Homo sapiens: one gene and its partners. The protein of the gene in region 2 purifies or fractionates together with the protein of the main gene of each other region. This does not show direct contact. Each region holds a gene or a part of one and is shown on either strand. Other genes may lie near its edges. The genes, in order: MTHFR, TLR10, ECEL1 and FBXO45.

What was found.
Region 1: the proteins of TLR10 (region 2) and MTHFR purify together in Homo sapiens (affinity purification with mass spectrometry; one large-scale study listed by BioGRID and IntAct). This does not show direct contact.
Region 3: the proteins of TLR10 (region 2) and ECEL1 purify together in Homo sapiens (affinity purification with mass spectrometry; one large-scale study listed by BioGRID and IntAct). This does not show direct contact.
Region 4: the proteins of TLR10 (region 2) and FBXO45 purify together in Homo sapiens (affinity purification with mass spectrometry; one large-scale study listed by BioGRID and IntAct). This does not show direct contact.

What each region holds. Positions count from the first base shown.
Region 1 is NC_000001.11:11,782,715-11,789,876, reverse strand, and holds the end of MTHFR (methylenetetrahydrofolate reductase (NADPH)), read left to right. Parts: 3' UTR 1-417; coding exon of another isoform or gene 418-607; 3' UTR 608-833; coding exon of another isoform or gene 834-1,225; 3' UTR 1,226-1,498; coding exon of another isoform or gene 1,499-1,728; 3' UTR 1,729-1,829; coding exon of another isoform or gene 1,830-2,004; 3' UTR 2,005-2,383; coding exon of another isoform or gene 2,384-2,489; 3' UTR 2,490-4,154; downstream 4,155-7,162. Other genes in the region: uncharacterized protein C1orf167, read right to left, coding at 834-1,225, 1,499-1,728, 1,830-2,004, 2,384-2,489, 4,588-4,729, 5,284-5,703. UniProt on the Homo sapiens protein: Catalyzes the conversion of 5,10-methylenetetrahydrofolate to 5-methyltetrahydrofolate, a cosubstrate for homocysteine remethylation to methionine. Represents a key regulatory connection between the folate and methionine cycles.
Region 2 is NC_000004.12:38,778,961-38,786,579, forward strand, and holds the start of TLR10 (toll-like receptor 10 isoform a precursor), read right to left. Parts: upstream 4,031-7,619; 5' UTR 3,961-4,030; exon of another isoform or gene 1-3,960.
Region 3 is NC_000002.12:232,485,035-232,492,686, reverse strand, and holds the start of ECEL1 (endothelin-converting enzyme-like 1), read left to right. Parts: upstream 1-4,852; 5' UTR 4,853-4,968; intron 4,969-5,932; 5' UTR 5,933-6,033; coding exon 6,034-6,819; intron 6,820-7,419; coding exon 7,420-7,488; intron 7,489-7,595; coding exon 7,596-7,652. UniProt on the Homo sapiens protein: May contribute to the degradation of peptide hormones and be involved in the inactivation of neuronal peptides.
Region 4 is NC_000003.12:196,573,169-196,580,088, forward strand, and holds part of FBXO45 (F-box/SPRY domain-containing protein 1), read left to right. Parts: intron 1-4,284; coding exon 4,285-4,641; intron 4,642-6,920. UniProt on the Homo sapiens protein: Component of E3 ubiquitin ligase complex consisting of FBXO45, MYCBP2 and SKP1. Functions in substrate recognition but also plays an important role in assembly of the complex.

The DNA of each region.
Region 1 (7,162 bases), on a different chromosome or scaffold from region 2:
CCAGCTTCCTGGTGTATTTTTCAGGTAGGCCCTTGTCCTGCCAGCTGCCTTCCTCATCCCCTCGTCCTGTCCCAGAGGTTATCTGCCTGGCCTGGCTCCCCACGAGTCACCTGCAAGCCCCAGGGCCTGGGGGCAGTGACTGGCAGGTGCAGATGGGCTGTTTCGTGTAGTGGAAGAGCAGCCTGATGGCCAAGGGGGTGGACGCAATTGTGGGATGTCCTCTTTACTCCCTTCCTGGCCTCACTGGCTGGGGCAGAGGGGCAGCCGCTAGGAGAGACTGAAAGCAGCAGCTAGGACTGAGGAGTGGGTTTTATTGTCCTTCAGAGCTCTTCAAGCTGTCCCCTCTGTCATCACTCCCTGGATGTGTGGGGCATGGTTCCTTCCCTGGGAAGGCTAAGTTCAGTTCTGTTTTTTATTCTATGAGAACAAGTCACAGCTGCAGCTGGGCCCCATGCTCTGCCCCAAGCCCCCAACCCCGCGGTGCTCTGGCGGCTTCCTGTCCACTCTCGGGGCCCTTGGGGCCTGGCTTGCTCCAGGGTCTTGGGCTACTGGCAGCTCCTCTCCTTGGGCTCCTGGCTGCCAGGCGTTGGTGCCACTTCTTAAAGGCCTGGAACCAGGGAGGAGAGGAAATGCTATTGTTGTGGGCTTTCTCCGGGGTCTGTGCTGTGCCTGCTAGAGCAACCCCTGTACCCAGCTCCTTTTGTCCCCAGGGCCCCTCCCTCTGCCCCAAGCAGCCAGCCAGTCTTGCCTAGGCCAAATGCACAAGCTCAGAATAGATCTGATGGTGAGCTGGGAAGCTGTACTCAGAGCAGAGCAAATGAGGGAGGGGGCGCTCAGGACCCAGGCCCTCCATGGGCTAGTGTGAGTGGCAGCCATGCCTCATGCCACACCTTCTTCGCAAACTGATGGACCGGGTGGGCCTGGCCTGAGCTGGGGCCACAAATCAAAGCAAGGGCTCCAGCATCCAGCCTGTGTGTTCTGTAATGGAACTGACCCCCTCCCCTGAAAACGAAGGGGCCCCGGGGCTGGCAAGCAGGGAAAGCTCCACGGTGCGTGGCTGTGGCACAGACTTCTGGAAGGCTGGCTGAGTGGAATGCAGGGAAGAGGGCAGTACCTGGGAAAGGACCCACCCATCTTCCTGCTGCTGTAACTGCTGAGCCACTCGCAGTCGCAGGATCCGCTGCCACCACGTCTGCCAGGCCCATCTCAGGTGCCACTCCCTGAGCTTTGGGGACAGTTGGCAGAGAAGGCCTCTTGTGCTCACGCTCCCCCGCAGTCCCCAGCCCTTCTGCCTTTCTCCCCCGACACTGCTGCACCAGAGTGAAAGGGCTATGGCAAGGGGGTGTCATCTGAGGAGTATTAAGAATGCAGATTCCTGGGCCTGTCCCCCAAGGTTTTGGAGTCAGTAGGTCCAAGGGCCATACTTTTGAGAGGGGTTTGGGTTAAGTATGAGGTGAAATGGGAGATGGTCAGTGTGGAGAGGGGTGCACCCACTCACCAGGGTCCGCACCAGCTGCTCTGCCCCTTGGGCATCCACCCAGTGCTGCCATGCCACTGCCAGGCACCTGGCCTGCTGGGAACCCCGCAGCCCGTGAAGCAGTGCCTCGAGGCACCGGCGCTGCAGGTACTTCCTCCTGATGGCCAAGAGCATCGTGACCCTTCAGGGCCAGAAGGAGGGCAGAGCCATGGGCCTGGGCCTGCTTTTCCAGGATCCTGCAGGAACGAGCACTGGCCAGAGAGGGCCCAGCTGTAGCCATGGCTCAGGCAAGCCCCTCAGCCCTTGCCCCCATCCCTCGGACCCACCAAACTGCACACACAGCTCCTCTTACCGTAGCCTCCGTTTATGGGCCTTGCTTTGGGCTTTGCAGGCTCTGGGCTCAGGGCTGGAGTGCGCTCTTGGTCCCTGGTCCCTCGTCCACAGGGGCAGGCCTGGGACCCAGCTACTCTGTCCAGGCCACTGTGGCCAGAGCTGGAAGGCAGGGCAGAGGGAATGTTCCCTGCACCCTGGAAAGGGGAGTTGAGTCACAAGAGGTTAAGGTGGGTCCAGGAAGGCAGCTGCTCTTAGTGCCCGCCTAGGAGTTGAGTACAGTGAGGAGGGTGGAGGAAGGTGCTGAGCTTAGCCTTGTGCCCTGCCCCCATCTCCCCAGGCCTCCAGCCTCTCCCGGCTGCCTGCCGCCCAAAGAGAAATCACAGGGGCGGGGCAGGAATGCAAAGTGTTTTCTCAGAACAGCTGAAACATTCCGAAGAGGGAATGGATGGGGAGAATGGTCAATACACATAAGACCGTGTCCCAAGGAGCTGATTTCCAGGCCCCTGAGGACTGGAGACCGCTTCACCCCTGCACTTCAGACACCGTTTGTCCCCCGGGGCAAGGTCTCCTTACTCTGAGCCCAGGCCGTTCCCCTTGGCTTCCTCCGTCCACCCAGGCTGCACTGCAGTGATGGCGCGGGAGGCACCAGCTCTGTGGCCTGTGTCCAGCAGCTGCGGGTCTGAAGGAATAGCCAGAGAGGAGCACCTGAACCCCATGGGCTTGGACTTCCTGGGGCCCCGCTGGGATTTCTTCGCTGCTCTAGCTGGCAGGACACATCCCGGCCTCTTCCACCCATTCCCCCATGTGGCTGAAGACATTCCAACAATGGGGTGGGCCCATAATAGTTAGCCCTCAGTCAGTTCCCGGAGCACAGCCCTGGGAGGGGGCTATTTCTCTCCCCACTGAAAACATTTCAAAGCTGAGTTACTTGTCTGAGGCCTCATCCCTCGGAAGCCGTCTGACTCCAGAGTCTGAGCCCCCGGCTAGTACCCTATAGAGAGGGGGCTCTCCAAAGGGGCTGCTGGGGCATGTGTGCCTGTGGCAGAAAAGAGGAGACCCTGGAATTCAGCACCCTGGGTGCCATTCCCAGCGTTTAGTTTCTAGAGGCCTCAGTTTCTCCATCAGCTTATGGGATCCTTGTCTTTACTGACAAGAATGGAATAGAAATGTAAAAGTACTCTGAAAAGCAATTGCCCTGTAACTTATCTAGAAAGAAAAGACCCTGAGACTCCAGAATCTGCTGTTGCCATAGCCCCATATGTGTGAATTCTGCAACTAGCCAAGGCTAGTTCCTTTCAATTCCATTTAAAAAACAAAAACCAGCAGGTGTGGTGGCTCATGGCGTAATGGGCCTGCCCAATGCTTTGGGAGGCCAAGGCAGGTAGATCGCTTGAGCCCAGGAGTTTGAGACAAGCCCTGGCAACATAGTGAGATCCCATTTCTACAAAAAAAAAAAAAAAAAAATTAGCCGGGTGTGGTGGCACACGCCTGTAGTCTCAGCTACTCAGGTGGCTGAGGTGGGAGGATCGTTTGAGCCCTGGAGGTTGAGGCTGCAGTGAGCTGTGATCGCACCACTGCACTCTGGCCTGGGCGACAGAGTGAGACACTGTCTGAGAACAAAAAACGACTGAAAAAAAAAATCACCTTAGCTTTTTCTCTTAGAATCTTCTCTAAAACGTATTCTTTGTGGCATTCTGAAATAGGATTCATGATGATGCCTGTTGATCTTAGGGACACTACCTCACCTGCCAGTATCTTTGGGGCTGTGTCCTTCAAGGACATGTCCCCAGACTGCTGTGCAGTGTCATTTTTTGTGTTTGGTTTGGTGGTGGCTTCTTCCCCCTTGCTAGGCTATCAACCTCTTATCACCACTTGTTGGTGTCAGAACTAACTGCTTCTGGTCTGGAGAGGGACTGACCGATGCCTTTGGGTAGAGAGAATTATGAAAGAAATTTTGGTATTTTTCTACTTTATATTTTCTGAGGTTTCTGTAATAAGCATATTTCACTTTTCCAATAAGAAAAAAAAAAACTTGGCCTGGCGCGGTGGCTCACACCTGTAATCCCAGCACTTTGGGAAGTCGAGGTGGGAGGATCACTTGAGTTCAGGAGTTCGAGACCAGCTTGGGCAATATGGTGAAACCCCGTCTCTACTAAAAATACAAAAATTAGCCAGGCGTGGTGGCGTGCACTTGTAGTCCCAGCTACTCAGGAAGCTGAGGCGGGAGAATCACTTGAACCCGGGAGGCAGAGGTTGCAGTGAGCTGAGATCACTCCTCTGCTTCAGCCTGGGCAATTGAGCCAGACTCTGTCTCAAAAATAAACAAAAAAACTTGACAAAAAAATGCTACTGTCCTCGTGTACCTATTCTGATCCTCAACTGCACCGTGAGAAAGCATGCATTTCAATGTCTCCCTAACAGGCTGTGACCCAACATGCTGGTCTTTGCGGCCGGACCTGCAGTGGCCTGGCACTCGAGAGGTGCCAGGTTCATCTTTGCTGATGGATTCAGAGTTGCTTGTCAGAGGCTGACTGAGAACTGGGGAGAGGTGGTGCATACGAGGTTGCTGGGCCCCTGGGGAGGCATCCAGCCATGCTGCCACCACCGGCTGAATCAAGCTGATTCTAAGGCCGGTGGTCCGAGGGTCATTTTTGGACCTCCCGCCCTGCCTAGGCTCCCTTCACCTGTTTCCAAGGGGCTGGGGCGTCCAGCAGCAGGCTCCCCCTGCTGGCCATCCGGGGCCAGAGCGTGAGGTCAGTCTGGGGCTTGGGGCGTACCTTGCCGGCCCCTGGCAGTCCCAGCCGCACCCTGAGCTGCACTGTCCGCAGGAAGCGCCTGAGCTCAGCCGGCCGGAGCTGGGTGAGGATGGCTCGCTGGACACCGCCGCGCACCGCCGACTGCACCGAGGCCTCTAGGACCCTGCGGGAGAGGAAGGAGTCTGCAGCCAGGGCCATAAAGGCCAGGACTCTCTGCAGGGAGCCCCCCCAGTGCCCTGCGGGAGGGGGCCTTCCGGGCCCAGCCCCAGGCTGGGGCCCACCCACCTCCCACACTCCCTTTTCTGGAGGGAGAATCTGGGTAAACAGGATGGAGAGCGACCTGGAAGGAGAAAATCACAGACGGGGACAAGCATCCTGTTTAGGGGCAGAGAGGGGACAGTCCTGCCAGTGCCACTTTGCCTCCCCTTCCCTGGCAAGAGCGCGTTTATGGCGCTTGCTGAGTGGCTGGCTGTGCTGGTGACTGCAAGGCATGACCATTAGAGACTTCCCCAAGGAGGGGACACACAGCAAGAGGCGGTGTCAGGATGTGGCCCAGGACTAGATGGCCAGGGCGGCCTCTCCCTGTCACCCCCAACCACCCTCTTGAGCCTTTGCCCTGCCACCCAGCCATGAATTACGCTCTACCCCTGCCAAAAACAGGCTTGAGGCCTGAGCTGGAAGCACAGAGTGGGGCTGCACTTAGACCACAGCACTCACCAGGCTCGCGGCTTCCAGGAAGCATGGGCTCGGCTGACCTGGCCCCGACAGGACTCATGCACCCACAGAGCCCAGCACCAAGTCCAGCACTGGGCTGCCTGGGCCCCAGCGCTCTCTCCTGCCTGCTGCTGGGCCTCATGGTGCATGCCCGGGGCCACTGGCCATGCTGGGAAGGCCTGTGGGGCCCGGGCCTTCTTCTGCTGCCCATCTTCCTGGCCTTGCTGCCCGCAGCTTCTCCAGCGGGCAAGGGAGGCCTGGGCCACACGCTGCTCCTGTGCCCCGGCTGCCACTTCCTGGGCTTCCCGCCATGTGGCAAACACGGCCCCCAGTGCTCTTCTCCTCAGGCCATCCTGAAAGGCTTGATGCTGGGCCCGGAGCACCCCCGTGTCTCTTACAACCTCACACCAGGCCTGGAAGTAGCTGCAAAACAGACACATTGGGCCAGGTGTGGTGGCTCATGCTTGTAATCCCAGCACTTTGGGAAGCCAAGGTGAGTGGATCACCTGAAGTCAGTTTGAGACCAGCCTGACCAACGTGGTGAAACCCCGTCTCTATTAAAAATACAAAAATTAGCCAGGCCTGGTAGTGGGCACCTGTAATCCCAGCTACTTGGGAGTCTGAGGCAGAAGAATTGCCTGAACCCAGGAGGCAGAGGTTGCAGTAAGCCGAGATCGCGCAAGTGCACTCCAGCCTGGGTGACAAGAGTGAAACTCCATCTCAAAAAAACAAAATGAAACAAAACAAAAACAGATGCATGGGAGGGCTTGTCTCGTTCTCAGAGTCAAAAGTCACATTTATTCAAAGTTACACCTGCAAATCTCCCACAAAACAGTAAACGACCAGTAACAGGTGAAAGCACTGGCTTTCCATCTTGCAACCTCAGCCTCAGAGGGCAGGGGCTGCCCTGCGAGGGGGATGGGAACCAGCAGTATGGGTTCAAGTCCCACATCAGCCATGCCCTGCCTCCCATCACATGCCCAGGTGGTTGGTGAGGGAGAGGAACACCATCTCTCACTCAGTGAGAAGCCAAGAAAAAAAACCATCTACGGCCAGGCACAGTGGCTCACACCTGTAATCCCAGCATTTTGGGAGGCAGAGGCGGGCGGATCACCTGAGGTCGGGAGTTCGAGACCAGCCTGACCAACATGGAGAAACCCCGTCTCTACTAAAAATACAAAATTAGCCAGGTGTGGTGCCACATGCCTGTAATCCCAGCTACTCGGGAGGCTGAGGCAGGAGAATCACTTGAACCCGGGAGGCGGAGGTTGTGGTAAGCCGAGATCGCGCCATTGCACTCCAACCTGGGCAACAAGAGCGAAACTCTGTCTCAAAAAACAAACAAACAAACAAAATAACCATCTACACCCTCAGATGCAAAAGCACAGACGTCAGCCATTCTGTAGCCAACAGTTCACTGCCCCACGGGGACACTGAACATTCGCAAATTTGTACTGAACTGTGGGAGGAGCCATTCTGTGTCCTCTGCTTGGTTTTACAATATGCATTCATGAACTGTATACATGTTCCACCAGAACATCTTTACTTAAATGAAGATTTCACTCTCTTCTCTTAGCGACAGTGTACAGCAGAATTCTCCTTGCTGTAACTCCTCACAATGGGCGTTATGGTAGATTTCCGAGGAGTGGATTTCTCCTCCTTTTTTTTTTTTTTTTTTGAGATGGAGTCTCGCACTGTCGCCCAGGCTGGAGTGCAGTGGTGCAATCTCGGCTCACTGCAACCTCCGCCTCCCGGATTCAAGTGATTCTCCTGCCTGAGCCCAAGTAGCTGGGACTACAGGCACCTGCCACCATGCCCGTCTAATTTTTCATATTTTTAGTAGAGATGGGGTTTCACCATGTTGGCCAGGCTGGTCTCGAAC
Region 2 (7,619 bases):
AGAATGTTACCTCTCTCTCATCTGTATTTCTCTTTCTCTAGAACCTTCCCAAGTCTGGTTTTTTTCTTGAAGTGAAGAAATTCCAGAAAACCTATGGAGAGTAGGGAGTGAGAGGGCCACTCCCAAGTTTTCCATTAGCTGCTGATACTAGTAAAGGAGAGAGAGCATCTTATCTCTTATCTTGGGAACACATATGATCATAGTTTCTTTGTGTGAACTCCCTTACAATGTAAACTTGGAGAATTCCTTTGTAAAAATATTAATTATCCACATTGATCATATAATTTTTATATTTCATAAACTATTGTTTCTGGTAAGTGTTCTCAAATATCTTGGAGAAAAAGCAATCATTTTGGTAAGGTCACCACATTTAGATGATTTCTCAAAACACCAACTTTTAAAAACGTGGTCAAATGACTTAAGATGCCTCCGGCCGTATTTTTCTTTGCTGACATTTCAGTGACTCCCTAGAGTGTAATGTATACTAAAATATTATACTGCATTAATATGTAAATATAACACAGGATAATTATCAGAAAAAACAGGTGAATATTCTATTTAATTAACTTAGTTCCTGCTGGATTTTTGAACTGTTATATATTTAAGAGTAAGTTTTCTACATCTACTTTTAAATATTTCTAATAGAAAATCAGTTTACAACTGTGGCCTGGAAGTGTAATTACTACTCAAATTATTGTGTTCATAGTATCCAATGTATAATGATAAACTTTATATTTTCTTTCAGTTTTCTTAAAACTATACATTAAAATTCAGAATATCTTAATTTCCATGCCACTAGATGCAGAAAATAATTTTCCATGAATTCATGATCTCTTCTGAATGACCTCTTAGTAAATAAACTTTCATTCATTTGCTTGTCACCTGTCCCTTCTCTGTTCATTCCCGTGGTAGCTGTCTGTCTTGTTCACTTCTGTATCCTCAGCATGTAGCATAGTGCTTGACACATGGTGCCTGCTCATTACTGCTTGTTGAATGCACATATGAATGAATGAATCCTTGTATGTATGAATTTCAACGTTTTAATCCTTAGTACAACGTGATGCATAATATGCTCTCATAAATATGTGTTGAATGAATGAATTTATGTTGTGAATTCCTGATACAGTGCAGGGCATGATGGTTGAAGAATGAGTTTGGTAGGCCTGGCGCGGTGGCTCAGGCCTGTAATCCCAGCACTTTGGGAGGCTGAGGCAGGTGGATCACAAAGTAAGGAGATCAAGACCATCCTGGCTAACATGGTGAAACCCTGTCTCTACTAAAAAAATACAAAAAATTAGCTGAGCGTGGTGGCATGTGCCTGTAGTCCCAGCTACTCGGGAGGCTGAGGCAGGATAATCACTTGAACCCAAAAGGTGGAGGTTGCAGTGAGCTGAGATGCCACCACTGCACTCCAGCCTGGGCAACAGAGCAAGACTCAGTTTCAAAAAAAAAAAGAATAAGTTTGGTTTTAGTGATTGATGGATCTGTGTTCAAATCCAATGTTAACCATTCATCCACTCATTAGCTATGTACTCGGACCATTTATTTAATCTCTGAAAGATCTGGTTTTGTCATCTGTAAAATGGAGCTTGTGAAGAGGCATAAGACAATGTATGTAAGTCACTTAGTACCATGCCTAGCATATCACACTTAATAAATGGTGGCAGTTATCAGGTCAAGACTCGGGTGAAGCAAGGAAGGCATAAATGTTAAGGGGGTCCCAAGGAACTCAGTAATCAAGATAATGTTTACATGAAATATTTTTAAAAATGAAAATTAATGCAAAAATCTATGTTGAACAAAATATCGAAATTTTTCATAAAGACAGGATCAGTATTGCTGATTGTTTCTTTTGCCTCAGGCTCTATTATGGCTTGATAGGACCCTGGCAGTTATAATCATTAGGTTGACAAAGGTGCTTTTAATGTTATCCTCTCATAGAGTGCTTAATTTGTAGCAATTGACTTTAAGCTTCTAGGTCTTAGAGCCATGGCCCCTTAAGAATGCAGCAGAATCTAACCCAGTTGCTTTAGCTGGAACTCTGCGCTGAGAAGTCAGAGTTTCTATCTCTTACCCACTTCTTCCCCCTGCCCAATACCACAGTCTTATCTGGGACTACAATGGGAGAGGAACTCTTTTTGAACTTCTCTTAATATAACAATAGTAAAGGTCCTATCTCTCAGGCAATACTTATGCATTATGACATTTTATAAAAACAACTTTTACATAGAGACAGGGTCTCACTATGTTGCCAAGGCTGCTCTTAAACTCCTGGCCTCCAGCAATCTTCCCACCTCAGCCTCCCAAATGGGTGTGATTAGAGGTGTGAGCCACTGTGCTTGGCCTCATTAAAGCAATTTTAAAAGTAGGACATACACTTTTTTTTTTTTTTGAGATGGAGTCTCGCTCTGTTGCCCAGGCTGGAGTAAAGTGGTATGATCTCAGCTCACTGCAAGCTCCACCTCCCAGGTTCAAGCGATTCTCCTGCCGCAGCCTCCTGAGTAGCTGGGATTACAGGCACCTGCCATCACACCCGGCTAATTTTTGTATTTTTAGTAGAGATGGGGTTTCACCATGTTGGTGATGTAGTCTATAAATAGTATATATATGTTAATATCATATCCCTACTACTACGTTAAAAGCAGGTAAAAAACAGAGAATGACCTTCCTTAATACATCTTTAATATCTTATAATTTAAAAGTCCAAGTCAAAAGACATCATCAAATGACAACTAGTGTTTTACCAAAGAATATTTAATCATCTAATTTATCTTTTCCCAATGATATAAAGAAATAGAAAAGAGATTAAGAACCTATTGAATGTTGAATGATCTTTGCAACATAAGAGTAAGAATGACTTCTTTTCAGTATTTCCTACGTGTCTGACATGGAGCTAAGTGTTTTATGTCCATTACCTTGTTTAATCCCTCAATGACTCAACAAAATGGCGGCCATTATTATTCATATTTTACAGATGGAGGAGCTAAAGCCCAGAGGTAAAGTAACTTGCCCAAGATGACCAACTGAAGAAGCAGAGATTTGAACCCAGACCTGTCTGGTTCCTTCTGGATGGTAACTAAACCCAAATGCAAGGCACCTCAAACCTTGAAATGAGGTGGCTTAAGATGTAACGACATCCTAAGGACCGAATCACTGAGGTTGAATCCATTGATCTGACCAGCTGCCATGGCGGCCACTTCCTCCTTTCTCACCCCATGCCCCTGTCTATGAAGCTTCATGCAGCTGCTGTGGGACACTCTGCTAGGTGCCACAAAGTTCAAGAGACTTTGCCTACATGTATAAATATATTCTTAGGAAAGTTATAAGTTCACAAGAATTGAAATAAAACTCGAAGTGCATCCTATTCCTAATTAATAGCTCAGTGTAGGTGGTCTGGGAGAAAGCTTATCAAGAAACCAAATGCTCACAGGTTGTTAACCATCCTCTTCTTTACAGCAACCACATATGGCCCTCTTTGTCCACTTCTGAAGGAAACGGAATAAGAACTGCATTGTACAAGATCCATCAGATCTGCCCCTACTTTTAAACAGGTAACACAAATGCAGAACTTTTCAACGGGGTAAAGGAGCAACAAATATGCCTTAAATAGCCAAAGGTTTCATCCAGCAGAGGTTAACATACGCTGTGGGGAAATAAGAGCTAGAAAAAACTTGCCACAGTGCATAGGACCGTTCAATCTGAATAGAAGAGCTGACCAGGTTTGATCCGCAATCAGTGAAAAGAAACCCACGCTCTCAAGCATCTGCAAGAAATTCCTCAGATCAATAGCCCCAAGGTCACTAATCATTAATCTAGACAAAATAGTAAATACTAAAAATCTAAATAACCCTACTTCCCTCCCCTCAATATTAGCTCAAATTATCTCCTTTTTAGAAAATACCCATGCAGCCCTTATATCTTTTTAATGAGAGTTACAACAAACAAAGCTAAGGTTCTTACCCCACGGCTTGCACTCTCTCAGCAGAGCTGCAGGTGCGTGGATGATTCGTTGACACGGTCAGAATTGGCTGCAGGAGGGAATTGAATCGAGGTTTTCTGTAAAGCTTAAACCCCATCCGCCCTCTTCTGCATGCTACTGGTATTGCATGTTATATATATTCATTATAATCTTAGCACTTTTTTAAATTGTGGTCAAATACACATAACATAGGAGTTATCATGCTCACCATCTTTCTATTTTTATTTTTATTTTTATTTTTTTTGAGGTAGGGTCTCACTTTGTCACCCAGGCTGGAGTGCAGTGGTGTGATCACTGCTCACTGCAGCCTTGACCTCTTGCGCTAAAGCCCGCAAGAGGCTGGGCTTCTCAGTCCCGCAAATGTCTGGGACTACAGGCGCTCACCAACTGGCCTGGCTAAGTTTTTTGTATTTTTTGTAGAGACGGGGTTTCGCCAGTTGCCCAGGCTGGTCTTGAACTCCTGAGCTCAAGTGATCTGCCTGTCTCGGCCTCCCAAAGTGCTAGGATTACGGTGTGAGCCACCGCGCCTGACCTTAAGCATTTTTAAATGTACAATTTAGTGGCATTAATTAAGTACATTCACACTGTTGTGCAACCACCACCACTGCCCATCTCCAAAGATTTTTCGTCATCCCAAACTGAAATTCTATGCCATTAAAAAATAATTTCCCATTTTCCCCTTCCCTCAGACCCTGGAAACTATAATTCTACTTTCTGTCTGTGTGAATTTGACTACTCTAGGTACCTCATGTCCGTGGAGTTATACCATATTTGGTTTTTTGTGACTGGCTTATTTCATTGAGCATAATGTCTTTAAGGTTCATCCATATCATTTCTATTATTATTACATAGAATAATAGAATCTTTCCTTCCTTTTTTAAGGCTGAATACTATTTTGTTGTATGTACGTCCCACATTTTGTTCATTCATTCATCCATCAATGGACATTTGGGTAGTTTTCACCTTTTGGCTCTTGTGAATAATGCTGCTGTGAACGTGGTGCACAAATATCTATTTAAGTTGGTACTTAACATTCTTTTGAGTCTATACCTAGAAGTGGAATTCACGGATCGTATGACCATTCTGTTTAATTTTTTGCAGAACTACCATACTGGTTTTCCACAGCATCTTAGAGCTCTTTGATGATGCTTTTCTTCAAGGTGCAGGTCGGTTATCCCTTTCATCAGTTGGGTGGGGCAGTCATGTGATGATGGGCAGGAGTAGGAATGGTGACTCCATAATTTCAGCAATCAGGCAGGAAGAGGGTGGAAAGGAGTTATCTAGAGCAGTGGTCCCCAACCCCTGGGCCACAGACAGGTACCAGTTCATGGCCTGTTAGGAACCGAGCCACACAGCAGGAGGTGAGTGGTGGGTAAGCAAATGAAGCTTCATCTGTATTTACAGTCGCTCCCCATCGCTTGCATTACCACCTGAGCTCCACACCCTGTCATATCAGTGGCAGCATTAGATTCTCATAGGAGCTTGGACCCTACTGTGAGCTGCATATGGGAGGGATCTAGGTTGCGTGCTCCTTATGAGAATCTAATGTCTGATGATCTGTCACTGCTTCCCATCATGTCAGATGGGACCATCTAGTTGCAGGAAAACAGGCTCAGGGCTTCCACTGATTCTACATTATGGTGAGTTGTATAATTATTTCATTATATATTACAATGTCATAATAATAGAAATAAAGTGCACAATAAATGTAATGTGCTTGAATCATCCCGAAACCATCTCTCCTCCATCTCCAAACCCGGTCTGTGGAAAAACTGTCTTCCATGAAATTGGTCCTGGTGCCAAAAAGATTGGAGACCTCTGACCTAGAGGCCTTTTCTTGAAGTGAAGTGGTAAAATAAGCATGGTATTTTTTAAAATGTAGATCGCAAAGTACGGATCAATTTTTAAAGCAACATTTTTGAGGTTTTTTTCATACTTGACTTAAGATTTAGGTGACTGCTGGAGATCACGAGTAAAGAAGAAAATTTCCAGATGGATTTGTCTACAGGAGGAATGATCAATTTAAACATGAATGATTATAATAGATTTATGTCTTATAAAATTGGGGAGTGGGTGGGTTCTTAAAATACATTTTTTAACTATCATATTGGGGTTTTTAAATTTAAAATGTAGTCCATGTATTTCCACATATATTGTAGGGGGAAATCACACAAAATATAAATAACTGTAAAAAGAAAAACAACAGCAAAACAAAACCAGCTCTGCTCCTCACCTAAACATATACAAACATGTCTATATTACACAAACGTAGGAAGACAGGAACACCCGTCAGGAACGTTGGAGAGGGGATTCCCAGCTTGTTGGATGAACTAAGCTCTAAAATCTTTTTCATTTCAGAAATTCTCAAATTACTATGATCAGCACACTCACACTGTATATTGCCCTCTCAAGGAAAAATAATCACTTGGGGTTTTTGTTGTCCAAAGACATATTCTTCCTTTCCCCAGAGACCAACATGTTTAAATACTTTATTGTCAGAAAACGGAGAAGTTTTCTTTAAGTGTTTTTACATTTGTTTACCAAAAACAAGTTGAGCCAAGTAGAGTTGTTGCTTGTGTCATCTAATCATCATCATTAAGCTTGCATTTACTTCCTAAGTGCAGATAGTATTGCACACAAGATATTGGCTAATCACCACCACAAACTACATAGAACATATACTTTATTCCCATTCGCCAGATGGAAAAACTGGTTGAGAGAGAACAAAAAACTTGCACAAGGTCATCATCCAATAGGGGAGGGAGCCAAGATTCAAAACTAAGTAAGTCTGGTTCCAAAGCCCACAATTTTTTCACGACTCCAGATGCCCAAGAGGTTATGTAATACTCTCTCTGCCTTCACCTGAGATTTCTAAAACGTTTAAATCTTTATTCACAACTAGCAACCAAGAATAGTATGCTCAGAACCATATGTGCTGATAACTTTAAGATGTAATATTTTTATTCCTTTTTAAAAAACTTCCCCCTGCCCCTACACACATGCATGCACGCAGGCACGCGCACACACACGCACGCACACACACAAACACACAAACACACATTTCCCTCCTATGTCTTCCTCTGATACCAGACGTGGGCCAGCTGTGATTCTGCCTTCATATATGTTGCAATGAACAGAGAACCTTGGGTTACCACAAGGGGATGGAGGTTTATTTTAAAGACACTAGAGGCTGTAAGGAAACACAGCAGCACAGCCAGGCCCTCTAGAGACCTGGAGCAGTGGCTTCTGGGGACTCCCAGAGCAGCCGTGGTGGTCAGGCTGTCTGGTTGGGCTGCTCTCCACTTTAGCTATGACTTGACTTCTCTTTGACTCTTCCTCAATCTGCTTCTCTTTCTATTCCCCACTTCTCTTTATTGCTGCCTTTGCTTCTATATGTGTCTTCCTACAGCCTTTTCCCAGGCTCATGGCTTACAGTCAAGGGCTGAGGCCCGCTCTGAGAATACTTCCCCCAAGAAGGGAAATCTGATCAGATCTTTGCCTCACTATGCAAGATGGAGCGTCTCTATTGGGCAGAGGATTCATGACCACCTTACAGGCGGCTAGCTTATTTTATTTTTATTATTATTTTGAGATAGAGTCTTGCTCTGCTGCCCAGGCTGGAGTGCAGTGGCATGATCTC
Region 3 (7,652 bases), on a different chromosome or scaffold from region 2:
GAGTGCAGTGAGTTTCCAGCGCCAGCGGGTGTGGGTGGGACCTGGGACCAGAGCCAAACACCTGGGCACAGCATCCAGGGGATGGAGGAAGGGCAGGAGGCAGGGAAGGTGGGACAGGGCGGGCAGAGAGGGAGAGTGCGAGGCAAAACTCTGGGCCAAGGCCTTAGGATTTGGAGACCAGATGGGGTGAGTGAGACAACCTAAGTATCCCTCAGTCACAGAGGGTGACCCCGAGGACCTCTGGCTTGGAAACACTAGCACAGGCCACATGGGGAGGAGAGGCACTCAACCATCCATCCTATTGTGTCCTATTTATTAAAAATAAATCAGTAAGGGCTGGGCACAGTGGCCCACACTTGTAATCCCAGCACTTTGAGAGGCCGAGGTAGGCGGATCACCCAGAGTTCAAGACAAGCCTGGGCAACATAGCGAGACTCCAGTCTCTACACAATAAAAAAAAATTGGCCAGGCATGGTAGGAACACCTGTAGTCCCAGCTACTTTGGAGGCCAAGGTGGGAGGATCACTTGAGCGTAGGAGATCCAGGCTGCAGGGAGGTGTGATTGCACCACTGCACTCTCTCTGGGAAACACAACGAGACGTCATCTCTAAAACAACAACAAAAAAGACGATAAAATAAAGTGATACCCAGGTGGGCCTAGATGCTCCCCCTGCAGTGGTCGCAGAGCCTACCTGGCCTTACCTTGGGAGGGCTGAGGCTGCGTGAACGAGGACTTTCATGTTTCTCCTCTACAAACTTGTGTGGCTTCAATATTTTAAAACAAGAGAATATTTACATGTTTCTTGTACAAAAACAACATTGCTCCAGAGGTTGGGAGGTGACCCCAAGAGGAGTCTATGCATGGCGAGGACAAAGCCTACCACGGGGTTCAGAGTGGAGAGGAGGGGTGCAGGAGGGTGGAAAAGTGGCCCCCACTTTGTCATCTGGTGGGTTCCAGAGCAAAGGAAAGGTGTTCAGGATCTGAGAGCCTGGGCAGGTTTGCCTGGGTGCTGTGCCTGGTGTATGGCTTGGCGCTGAGAGATGCTTCAGGCAGGGCATCTCCATGAACTGATCACGGACGTCACCTGAGTTTATCATATGCGTCCCCTGTCCTGGGCTCCAGAAGGGGCCGCGGGCTACCTGGAGGGGAAGAACAGGGGCTGCCATAGGAGAGACTTTGCATCCGGTGGAGTAGGGGCCTGTGGAGGCAGCACCTGACCAGATGGGAGAGGCCACTTCCAGGTGGCCCTGAAGGATGGTTGGCAATTGGCCACCGTAAGAGGGGACGGGGGAAGGGTGTTCCAGGCAGCTGAAACAGCAAGTGCTAAGGCCTGAGGGATGACAGAGCCAGCCATGTTCTGGGAAATGGAAATAGATCAGAGTAACCAGAGGAAAGAGGGAGGTATGGGGGTGGGGAGGCAGAGAGGGACAAAGACAGAGAAGAGCCAGGAGGAGGCCCTGCCTTGTGGGCCACACTAAGATGCCTGAGCTCCCCCGTGAGGGGTGAGGAGGGGTTCTGCCGTGGAGGCCGGAGTGGAGGCCAGGTGTCCAGCAGCGGAGGCCAGTGCCAGCAGTCGAGGCCGGAGTGGGCCTAGTGTGGGGTCAGGACCTAGCAAAGGAGCTCAGCCAGAGGTCTGGACAGGGTGGAGGAAGCCAGGCCAGGAGGGCCGGGGGGTGTGGGGAGGTGATAGGCCAGGCCAGGGAGCCCAAGGGCTGCCCTTGAGGCACAGGAATCTGAAAGCCAGTGGAGGACAGATCCAGCTGTCCCCCCGACCGCCCTGCCAGAGGTAGGCCCCACTGGAGGCTCAGGCAGGACCAACGGGCACCCGTCACCCCACCTGGTCACAGCAATGGGGAGGAGTGGAGGCCTGGGGCAGAGTGGTGGGGTACTGGGCCTTTGGGGTCTCTCAGTTCGGCTGTGGGCCCCGAGCTTTCCAAGATGAACCTGAGTCAGCACCGTGGCGGCTGTGGCGGCCACGGCGGCTCCGGCCTTCCTCCACCCCCTCCCTGCCACCCCGGCCACTTGGGAGAGTCATTTCATTTCTCAAATTAAAAATCCATTTTGTGCTGTGAATAATAGATGGGATGAGCCCCGAGAGGCCGGGTGGAGGACAGGAAGCTGGCTGGAGGCGTGTTTTTAGGGCTCAGAAGATACCACAGATCTGCAGGGGAGGAGTAGGGCCTGGTTGGACAGGGTGGAGGCTGGCGGGGCTCGTCCTGGAGCTGACACCCTGCTGCAGCACACCGAGGCAGGGCAAGGGGTTCATCCCCACCCACGTGCAGGCCGCAGGAGAGAGGCGGGTCCGACCACAAATGGGCTCCAGTCAGGACCAGGCCCGGCGTTAGGTGGGCAGCCCCACCTCAGAGCAGGGCACTTAGCAGCCCACATGGTGAACGTGCAACAGATGCAAGCTACTGGTGACAGCACACTGTCCTCAGGGAGGGCTCTATGTCCAGAACCCAAACCAAGTGATGCCCTGTTCGGCAGAGTTGCTGGGATCTACCCTTGGTCAAGGAGGAGACAGAGAGTCAGGTTCTGAACCCCTCATCTCTGCCCCCTTGCATCCCCTCGGGCCTTTTCTCTCCAAGGCAGCTCTGGCAGCACCCAACTGCTCCCTGAAGCTGGGCACCCAGCTGCCTCACTCAGGGCTTGGCTGGGTTTAGCTGGGCACCACTGTGGCCTGTCATTCTCTTTCTCATGAGTCATGGGGTCATCTTGGTAATTAGGGGTAGGAAGAGATCCCCCAAAAGAGTGAGCAAGCTACAGGCCAGACCACTGGTGCCTACTCCCCTACAGTGCCAGCTTCCCTTACAGAGAAGGTGCCGGAGAGTCAAGGAGGTGGGCCTCTGACTTCTCTTTATTGGCAGTCTGTGTGGGGTGGCCAGGACTGAGGGGTCAGAGGGCCCAATTCCAAGTCAACTCCTGTAGGCCCTGGTTGCTGCTCTCAGCCCGGGGCTGGGGGATGCGATGTGAAAAGAAAAGGTGAGGTGGAGCCAGGCAGGTCGCCCGGCAGGGAGTCGGGAGGCCCATGAGCAGACCAATAGCAGCTGAGTCTGGGAGAGGGTGGCTGGAAGGGGGGTCCCAGAGCTGACCCGGGAGGGAGGAGGAAGGGATGAGGGAGGGCAAAAGGAGGGAGGAGAGACTGAGGGCCTGGGGGCTGCCCCCCACCCCACCCCCGGGACTGGAGCAGAAGAGTCCCTAGGGAAGCGTGTTTGCCTCTGTGCCTTTCTGTCGGAAGAGGCTCTCTGAGACAATATCCATTTTTACATTTCTTGGAAATTTCATGGCATTCATTTCGGGGAAAATAAAAGCTGTCCTTGCTGGAGAAATGATACCAATCAGGGCCTGAAAAGGCTGGAAAATTATCCTCCTGGAGACGGGAACATTGAGGGAAAAATGCAGATTAAAAGCACAAAGAGCCACTTTGCCACCTCCCTGCCCTCCCCTCCCCCCTTCATGGAATCGCCACATTATAAGTAATTCCATTTTTCCTCTTTAGAATTAATAGGACCCAAGAAGGATGCATGGGGCAGAGGACAACCCTGGGGTGGCCAGAGATGGAGGCAGGGTATCCGGAGTGGGGGCTTAGAGATGGAGAGATGAAGAGGCAGGGAGAGGCAAGACAGGGGCAGAGGCCGGCACTCAGGGCCAGGGCTCAGGAGCTGGGCAGATGCACAGACCCTGAGGAGGAGAACAGGATGATGGGTAGGTTATCAGAGTCCCTACCTTGTTGTGATTTTTATTAGATGGTGCTCCATGGCTCTCACACATTGTTTAAGCCAATCCTACGGGCTGGAGCCGGCAGACCTGGGAGGGCTGGTGCTTTGTGGGGTCTCCTGCTAGAGACACCAGAGGCAGGGTAGGGCAGAGAAAGCAGAGACTCCAGAAACAGTATCAGTCTTCCAAGGAGCCCCAAGTTCTCTGTGTCCCATTAGGGCCAGGCTGTCTGGCCAAGGCAGGCAGGCAGGTAGAAGAGGGCTTTGCCTCCAGGCAGTGGGGAGGCCCCACATTTAAAAAGCCAGTTTACCTGGAAGAAGGCAGGCGGTGAGTAAATTCAGAGTCCCTGCACCCAGCCTGCCCTCCCATCAGTCCACATACCAGGGTCTTGAGGCTCAGGGCCTGTCTGAGGCCTAGGGCTGCTGGCCAGAGGGGGCAGGCTCCAGCCTTCCCTGGCTCCAGCAGGGAGACTTCGCTCATTCTTCTCTTGGCCTTTTCTTCCTACCTGGGCCAGGGACTCCCTGAGCCGTGGTGCCAGGGCCACCCAAGGCTGGGGAGGATGGGGAAGGGGGCGGCAAGCCCTCTTCTTGCAGGAGTCCCCGCTGAGCTCCCTTCACCAGGGGCTAGGTGAAGGGAGCGAGGCCAACCAGAAGCCCTAGTGGAGAGCCCATCCAGGGCAGGGGTTCCAAGGAGGACAAAAAAGCCGGTTAGTGAAGGTGCGCTCTGCGCCAGGGACTGTGCCGGCAGACACAGGCACTACTGACACCGCCCCCAGCCCTTCGGAGGAGTCCTCGGCTCCTCATCTCCAGCTCCAGCCCCTTTCCAGCCGGCTGGTGGGCGGCTGGGAGTGGGGACACTGGATCGGAGGGGACCCTTCACGGGAGTACTCGCTGCCCTCACTCGTCTCGGAACGCGGCTGGACCCGGAGTCCCCGACCGCAGCCCGCGCACGACCCCCGGGAGCCTGTCTCCGCGGCCGCCGACCCACGTCCGCGCTGCCGCCCCACTGCCAGGTGGCCCGAGAGATGCAGGAGGAAGGAGGGGCGCGCGGGGCGGGCGGAGGAGGGTGGAGCCGCCGGCGCGCCCCCTCCCTCGGGCCGGCAGGCGGGCGGCGCGGCGGGCTCGGCGCGGCGGCAGAGGAGGCGGCGGGCGCTGGGAGACACCGGACGCCCGCTCGGCTGCGCTGCGGCTCAGGCCCCCGCTCGGGCCCGACCCGCTCGGTCACCGCCGGCTCGGGCGCGCACCTGCCGGGTAAGTGGCGCCCGAGTCCCTGCCGCTGAGGCCACCACCGCGGCCACTTCCGTCGCCGCCGCCGCCACTGCGCGGAGCCTCCCGGCTTTGTCTGCGTCCTCTCGGCTGCGGCTCCGGCTGCGGCTGCGGCTGCGGCTCCCGGGCTCGGCTCTCGGGCTCCGCGGACTGCGCCGCACGGCGCCGGGGCTCGGGGGTCGCCAGCCAGCTCGCTCCCCGCCGGGGGTGAAACTTCGCCCAAGTTTGGGTTCTGGGGAGAACCTGTTGAAGCCAGGAGTGGCTCGGGGCGGGGACAGAGATGGTGGGAGTGGGGGGAGGGAACCCGTCTCGGGTTCTCCATCAGGGCCGTCCAGTGGGTGGGTTGTGTGTCCGCCACCCTGGGGCGTTGGCGCGCGCCCCTAGGGAAGGGGCGAGTGGGCCGTCGGGCCACCGAGCAGAAGGAGCCAGGGAGCGGGGTTGGCGTGGTCGATCCCGCGGACTTCCGCGAGGACAAAGTTTGGTTCTTTGGCCGCTTTGCGGAGCGTCTGTCTGGGTCCAGCGCGGAGAGCTGAAAGTGTCGCATAGACGCGCCCCTGACCGCACCTCCTCACTCCAGCCTCCGCTTCTTCCCCCACTCCACCCGGCCTTGGCTGGGGCAGGTCGTGGAAGAGAAAGGCGAAGGGGAAGAGGGACGACCTTTCAATGAAGGCCCACTACGTGCCAGGCCCCTTGCCTGGCGCCTCTTGCTTCCAATAAGAGCCCTCCCAACCCTGCGGCCCTCAAGTGTGTGCAGGGAGGGGACAGGGGGGAAGACTCCACTGTGCACCCGGGGGTGGTGGCCCCGCCGAACCCTCATAGTCCCTGGTTTCCGCAGTGAATGAGGCCCGCGGCTGGGGCCTCTGCACCCAGGCCTGTGTCCCTCCTCGCGGTGACCCTGAGCCCCATCCGGCTGCGGCGCCTCCTGAGCCTGCTTCCGCCCTTCCCGCAGCTGCGGCCCCAGGGCCATGCGGAGGCCCACGAGGAGGCCGGCGGCCACGCGCATCCCGTAGCCCAGGTGGCCCAGGTCTGCACCGCGGCGGCCTCGGCGCCATGGAGCCCCCGTATTCGCTGACGGCGCACTACGATGAGTTCCAAGAGGTCAAGTACGTGAGCCGCTGCGGCGCGGGGGGCGCGCGCGGGGCCTCCCTGCCCCCGGGCTTCCCGTTGGGCGCTGCGCGCAGCGCCACCGGGGCCCGGTCCGGGCTGCCGCGCTGGAACCGGCGCGAGGTGTGCCTGCTGTCGGGGCTGGTGTTCGCCGCCGGCCTCTGCGCCATTCTGGCGGCTATGCTGGCCCTCAAGTACCTGGGCCCGGTCGCGGCCGGCGGCGGCGCCTGTCCCGAGGGCTGCCCTGAGCGCAAGGCCTTCGCGCGCGCCGCTCGCTTCCTGGCCGCCAACCTGGACGCCAGCATCGACCCATGCCAGGACTTCTACTCGTTCGCCTGCGGCGGTTGGCTGCGGCGCCACGCCATCCCCGACGACAAGCTCACCTATGGCACCATCGCGGCCATCGGCGAGCAAAACGAGGAGCGCCTACGGCGCCTGCTGGCGCGGCCCGGGGGTGGGCCTGGCGGCGCGGCCCAGCGCAAGGTGCGCGCCTTCTTCCGCTCGTGCCTCGACATGCGCGAGATCGAGCGACTGGGCCCGCGACCCATGCTAGAGGTCATCGAGGACTGCGGGGGCTGGGACCTGGGCGGCGCGGAGGAGCGTCCGGGGGTCGCGGCGCGATGGGACCTCAACCGGCTGCTGTACAAGGCGCAGGGCGTGTACAGCGCCGCCGCGCTCTTCTCGCTCACGGTCAGCCTGGACGACAGGAACTCCTCGCGCTACGTCATCCGCGTGAGTGCGCCCCCTGAGCGCCCTGCCAGCGGCCGCGGATCCGGGGCGCAGTGGCCTTGCCCAGGGGTCCCTGCGCGCGGGAGGCGGGTGCGTGAGAGGAGAGGAGGGAAGAGACGAGCAGGAGAGGGGAGGGGAGGGGAGCGCACAGAGGCAGAGCGCGGGAGGAGGGCGCAAGTAATTTCCCTGGGGTAATTGCGGTGTTTAGAGGAGCCGCGGGAGCCGCAATTTCCCAGCCCTCTGGCAGGCAGTGAGGGCCAGGAGGGAGAGGCGCGCCGGCGGGCTGGGTTGACGTCTCCGCGAGGTCTGGAGCTGGCCCCAAAGCTAGGGGTCCCAACTGTCAGTGGGGGACCTACGAATGCCCCGGACAGATAAGGAAAGTGCAGACGTACAGGGGTAAGATTGGGCATCCGCAGGCTGGGACAGTCAGGGATGGGGCTTTGGCCATCTCGTCTGGGTGGAAAGAGGAGCTGGGGTCTGCGTGCTTCTGTGGCTGTACTCATGGATGTCTGGTTGCTCTCTGGGCATTGGAGTGGGAATTCCCTCTGTTTAGGGAACCTGAGGTGTGGGCCTCTGACCTGTGGCCCCTGTCTCCCTCCCCAGATTGACCAGGATGGGCTCACCCTGCCAGAGAGGACCCTGTACCTCGCTCAGGATGAGGACAGTGAGAAGGTGCTGGGGCATGGGATGGGGAGGCAGGGAAGGCCTGGGGCCCCAGGAGGGGTGGATCCAGGCTAGGCCTGTCCCTGTCCCTGGGTGAGCCCCCTCCCCTGGTGCAGATCCTGGCAGCATACAGGGTGTTCATGGAGCGAGTGCTCAGCCTCCTGGGTGCAGAC
Region 4 (6,920 bases), on a different chromosome or scaffold from region 2:
GAGTTCAGTTTTGGGAGAGCAGCATTTACAGTATTTTTGAGACAGAGATTTCCAATAGGCAGCTGTTGGAGGTTGGAGCTTAGAGGAGAGATCTGCGCTAAAGATATAAAATAATATAGTTAGATTGAATGAAAGGAAGTAGTGGGAAATATTATAAAGCTATATTATGGGACTAGATATATCATGGAGGGCTTTGAAATATAGCCTTCAGTCTATAGTTTGGGTTTTGTACTACAGTTGTAAACCATAGAAGTTTGAACAGCAGAGTGACAAAGGCTCTACTTCAAAAAGACTAGGCCATAGATGAGTTGGAGAGGGCAGCGGTTAGTGCCTATACCAGAGATACTTAAGACTGGAACAGGTACATCGAGGAGAGAAGGGGATGGCTGGAGAGCTGTCGTAGAAAACAATATACATAGGTAGACAGCTGACTGGGTGAATGGGATGAGGAAGATGGATGTGTCAAATGGATTTTCCCAGGAGCCTGGATAACAGAGAATGATAGGAAAAGGTTTAGGGATAGCATAGAACAGGAAAGTGGAGTTTATTAATCTGTTCAGTTGTTTTTTTTTTAAGTTCATATTTTACATATCACCCCGTAGCATTAATTATTTAAGTCATACTTGGCATCTGATGAGAATTCTCTAAAGTTCAGACTTAGATTTTAAGCTAGGTCTTCATGCTGCTTTTGCCATAACAAAATTCAGGTTGTGCATGGGAATGTGAGGCTATGGGTTGTTTTTAATTTATTAATTTGGTCTTTATTTTCCTTTTTTTTTTTTTTTTTGAGACAGAGTCTTGCTCTGTTGCCCAGGCTGGAGCGCAGTGGCACAATTTCAGCTCACTGCAACCTCTGCTTCCTGGGTTCAAGTGATTCTGCCTCAGCCTCCCAAGTAGCTTGGATTACAGGAGCCTGCCACTACGTCCAGCTAATTTTTGTATTTTTAGTAGAGACAGGCTTTCACCATGTTGGCCAGGACGGTCTCGATTTCTTGACCTCGTGATCCGCCTGCCTCGGCCTCCTGAAGTGCTGGGATTATAGGTGTGAGCCACCATGCCCGGCCTATTTTCCCATTTCATATGAAGTTTCCAGTATCTGTTTCTAAAAAGTAAAGACACTTAATGTAATCACAATATGGTTATCACATCTAAATATAAATGTACATTAATTCCTTAATATCAAAAATGCAGTGTTCAAATTGCCAGTTGTCTCATAAATGTTAAATGTTGCATTTTAAAGTTATATTTTATATAATCAAGATCTATATAAGGGTCCCATGGCAAAGGTTGATATGTCTCTTAAGGCTATTTTAGTCTACATATTCACTCACCATCTCCCCAACCTCCCACCTTATTTGTTGAGGAAACAAGGTGGTTTACTCTCAGCTCGATTTTGCGGATTTCATTATCATCGTGTTGCTTGACATGTTCTTCTGTCCTCTATTTCCTACTGAGGTGTGATCAATTTAGATTAGATTAGATTTTTTTTGCAAGTTATTTTGTACTAGACTCAGTGGTTAAAAGTGTGTTAGAAAATAAGAGCTGCTAAATTGTTACGTGGCACAGAAAGTGGTGGGCAAGCACCCGGCAGAGAGAGACATCAAGGGAATTGGGTGGCCCTGGTTAAGAATAGCTTAATAGAGGTGATCTTAGAGAATGTGTGGGAGAAGAAAGCACATATAATACTTTCAGCAAGAAGAACATCATCAAGGTAGAAAGGGAAATAGGAAGAATCAGATTTGGAGGGCTGTGAAAGCCAGGCAGAAGAATTTGCAGTTGGTGATGCTACTAAGTATGGAACTACCAGAGGTTATAGAACTGGGATGAGATATGTAGTAAAGGTGCTGTTTTAGAAAGACAGGTTTGGAAATAATTCAGATAGAGAGTTGAGGACTGAGTTTGGAGAATTTGGTTGGGGCAGAGGAAGGGTGGTCACCAAAAAAGGAAATGATACAGGATCAGTTCAGGGAAATAGGAAGATGTCATAGAAGTTTGAGGAAGAGAGGGCCGGGCGTGGTGGCTCACGCCTGTAATCCCAGCACTTGCGGAGGCCAAGGCAGGCGGATCACCTGAGGTCAGGAGTTTGAGACCAGCCTGGCCAACATGGTGAAACCCTGTCTCTATTCAAAATTCAAAAATTAGCCGGGTGTGGTGGTGCACGTCTGTAATCCCAGCTACTCGGGGGAGGCTGAGACAGGAGAATCGCTTGAACCCAGGAGGCAGAGGTTGCAGTGAGCTGAGATTGAGCCACTGCACTCCAGCTTGGGTGACAGAGTGAGACTCTGTCTCAAAAAAAAAAAAAAAGAAAAGGAAGTTTAAGGAAGAGGTTGTCAATAGTGTCAATGTGAAATTGGAATTTATAAGAATTGGGGAGTAGGCATAGGGAAATATTAATTAAATATTTTATAGTGAATTATTGATATTATTCTCTTGAGTTATTTAGACAGTATTTGCTATTTTGGGGACATGTTCCTTCCCCATTTAATCTTCTTTTCCTTTCTTTTCTTTGTTTCTTTTTTTTTTTTTGAGACAGGGTCTCACTTTGTCACCCAGGCTGGAGTGCAGTGGTGTGATTTTGGCTCACTGCATCCTCTGCCTCCTGGGCTCAAGCATTCCTTCTGCCTCAGCCTCCCAAGTAGCTGGGATTACAAGCGTGCACTGCCACGCCCAGCTAATTTTTTGTATTTTTACTAGAGTTGGGGTTTCGCCATGTTGCCCAGGCTAGTCTTGAACTCCGAGTTCAGGCGATTTGCCCACCTTGCCTTCCCAAAGTGCTGGGATTGCAGGGGTGAGCCACCGCGCCCGGCCCCTTCATTGAATCTTACGTTTTGGTCTTATAAGTGCCTTAAAGTATTTTATAATACGAGCAGATAGGAAAAACATTGGGAATGCCTCAGTTTTATTGTGAATGCATGGGATACTGGAAACAAATAGTTCTCTGTTTTTAAATCTGCGCTCTGCAGCTCACTGAAACGGTAGAGTGCCAGCGAATGGTAAACGAACAGGTGGTGAGGGGACTGGATCCTTGATCTCTCTTTGGGCCTCTTGCACTAACTCGCGGTTGAAATCCCTGAGAAGGACTAGGTGACCTTTAAGGGTCTTCCTAAATGCTGACATTCTATGCCTCTGGAGTTGATTTTTCTCAGGTTAGCTGAAGCATAGGTCCCAGCCTTCCACTGCTTTGGGTAGTTTGACTAAAGTAGAGAAGGGATTTTTTAAAAACATACTAGCCAGGCAGGCGTAGTGACTCGAACCTGTAACCCCAGCTACTCGGAAGACTGAGATGGGAGTATCACTTGAGCCAAGGAGTTCAAGGCTGCAGTGCGCTACGATTGTGCCACTGCACTGCAGTCTGGGTGACAGAGTGAGACGTTGTCTAAAAAAAATTTAAAATACACAAACTAAAAGTTTAAAATTGTTTATGAGAAATTGTTATTGTTTGTATAGAAGAGCTATTTTCATACCCTCTTTATTTTGGAAGTGTAAACCTTTGTATTTACTGAAGAGTCAACTAACTTGTCTTATTGATAGCTTCTCTTCATAAATTCTAGTAGTTGAACCTAGATGCTATCTAAGGGATTATTTGATTTGGTAAAATGAGATTGGTGATTTTTTTATTGTGTAAGTCATATCCAGCAAGTAGGCTGAGGATCTAAGGTAGTTTGTGTTTACTAAAATTTTTCATAAACTTTAGAGCTGCTAGGATTAAAGTTTCTGTTTTATGTAAAATATAATTCTTTTTGATGACAGCATTGCCCATATGAAAACTGTACATCTCAACTTTTTGGTATAAAAATATCAAATATAAACAAAAGTAGAGAAAATAGTTTGATGAACTTCCTTATACCCATCACCAAGCTTTGCCAATGATTAATTTATGGCCAGTCTAGTTTCATGTTTCTATTGCACACTCTCCCACTCCATCTCTGGATATTTCAAAGCAATTCCCAGATACCATTATTTTATCCATAAACGTTTCAGTATTATCTGTAAGATATAAGGATTTTTCTTTTTTGTATCTTTTGATGTTTTAAGAAGTCTGTTTGAGGAAATACTACAATTTAAAATTTTGGTCAGTGATGAAACGGTTGGCATTTATTTTTTAATGTTATTTATTCTGTTAGTATTCCATCCTGAAACTTCAGCCATTATTTGGAAATACTTGTGTTATTTTAAAATATATAACTTCGTTATTTAAAAACATACAGCGTGAAGTTTGGGTAATTTTTAATATTTAAGAAAAATAAAATTGTTATTTATTTGGTCTGTTTTTCATCTTTTTAGATACGTGCTTTTCAACATGCCTTCAGCACTAATGACTGCTCCAGGAATGTCTACATTAAGAAGAATGGCTTTACTTTACATCGAAACCCCATTGCTCAGAGCACTGATGGTGCAAGGACCAAGATTGGTTTCAGTGAGGGCCGCCATGCATGGGAAGTGTGGTGGGAGGGCCCTCTGGGCACTGTGGCAGTGATTGGAATTGCCACAAAACGGGCCCCCATGCAGTGCCAAGGTTATGTGGCATTGCTGGGCAGTGATGACCAGAGCTGGGGCTGGAATCTGGTGGACAATAATCTACTACATAATGGAGAAGTCAATGGCAGTTTTCCACAGTGCAACAACGCACCAAAATATCAGGTGAGAAACTGGGGTTTTTCTCAAGTATGGGCCTTTGTCAAATCACGCCTTAATTTGTTTTAAATTTACAAATTTTTATATAGCAGTTTTTGTCTTTTTGGTAATTTTTATTTTTATTATTTTTTTATTTTTTCAGATACCCAGACTTCAAGGAGATTTTTTTTTTTTAATGTTAGGGGGTTATAGTTAATTTTGTTGGGTGTTATATTTTGATTTTGGCTATGCAGAAAAATATTCTTTTTTTTTTTTTAGACAGAATCTCACTCCGTTGCCCAGGCTAGAGTGCAGTGGCGCCAACTCGGCTCACTGCAACCTGCACCTCCCAGGTTCAAGCAATTCTCTGCCTCAGCCTCAGTAGTTGGGATTACAGGCGCCCACCACCATGCCTGGCTAATTTTTGTATTTTTAGTAGAGACAGGGTTTCACCATCTTGGCCAGGCTGGTCTTGAACTCCTAACCTCGTGATTCACCTGCCTTGGCCTCCCAAAGTGCTGGGATTACAGGCGTGAGCCACCATGCCCAGCCTCAAGGAGATTTTTTGACCATTTTTAAATAAATGTATAAATGATCTATCTCAATATTTGTTTCCTAATACAACTTTAAGCAGCCTATTTTTGCTCCAGATCAGGGGTTGGCAAACTTTTTGTAAGGGCCACGTAGTAAATCTTTAAGTCTTTGCAGTCCATATGGTCTCTGTCACAACTTTTTTTTTTTAATGTCATTTTCAAGGTAAGGATCTATCACGAGTTTCAACTCTATTTATAGTACAAAAGCAGTCATCGATAATACGTAAATGAACGAACATGGCTGTATTCCATAGACCTTATTTATGGGCTGCAGGACAGATTTGGTCCAGGGGCTGTAGTTTGCCAGTTCATGCTCTATATCAAGCTTGTCCAACCCACAGCCTGCATGCAGCCCAAGATGGCTTTGATTGTGACCCAATGCAAATTCATAAACTTTCTTAAAACATTATGAGATTTTTTTGCAATTTTTTTTTTTAAAGCTGATTAGCTATCTTTAGTGTTAGTGTATTTTATGTGTGGCCCAAAACAATTCTTCCAGTGTGGCCCAGGGAAGCCAAAGGATTGAATACCCCTGCTCTAGATGGTCATCTTTCCTGTATCACGGCACATCCAAATCTTTTTCTAGGCTCCTTACCCCAGTAAATACAGCTCTGTGCATGCACATGTTTGTGGATTCAAAGCCCCTGGAGGCATCAGTGAGTTCTGCAGAGACAGGCAAATTCAGGCAAACTGCTGTATTTTTTATTCTTTTCATCTTAGGCTTAAGGCATACTCATTTGACTCAAGTTAAAATTATAGTTCCTATTTGTAAAAGCCGTATTTATTACTACAGACTTAACAGGGTGTAATATACAATAATCTGATAAGAAATTGGAAGTCTTTAAAGAACTATAGATTGCATATTTCAGAGCCACCTGTGGCGTGAAAGTTCCAGCCTCAGTAATGACCTCAAGTCAGGCATACTAAAGCAGAAGAACCAAAAATACATCCCATTTTCTGAGGTATAAAAGCTGGAAGGATTTTTTTCATGGAATGTTTCCTCACTATCCTTTTAGGCTCTGCGGATACTATAAGGAGAAGGGTGTGTAGACTTTATCACTAAAAACGAAGTCCTGTCGCCACCCTTGTAATGATTTTGTAAGTGAAAGTCCTTAAGTCTGTTTTTCAGAGAACATGCTCTATGGTTTTAGTCCTTTTAAATTTATTGAGATTTGTTTTATTCTAATATGTGGTCTGTCTGGATGAGTGTCCCATGTGTGCTTGAAAAAATGTATATTCTTTTGCTGAATGGAATATTCTGTAAATGAGAATTAGGCAAAGTCGATTGATAATGTTCAAGTCTTACATAGTGTTACTGATTTTTTTCTACCCTTCTATTATTTACTAAGAGGAGTATTGAAATCTCCATCTATCCTTGCTAATTTGTCTTTCTTCTTTTAGTTCTCTCAGTGTTTGCTTCATGTATTTTGGAGCTCTGTTACTACTGGTGCATATACATTTCTAATTGTTTTATCTCCCTGCCTGATTTATTCTTTTATTATGAAATGACTTCCTTTGACTCTAGTAATCCTCTGTCAATCTGTCTTTGTATTTAAAGTGGAGCTCCTACACAGCACATAGTTGGATCTTGATTTTTATCTAACCCAGTCTCTGTCTCTGACTTTTTTTTTTTGAGACGGAGTTTTACTCTTGTTGCCCAGGCTGGAAGTGCAATGGCGCAATCTCGGCTCACCGCAACCTCCACCTCCCAGG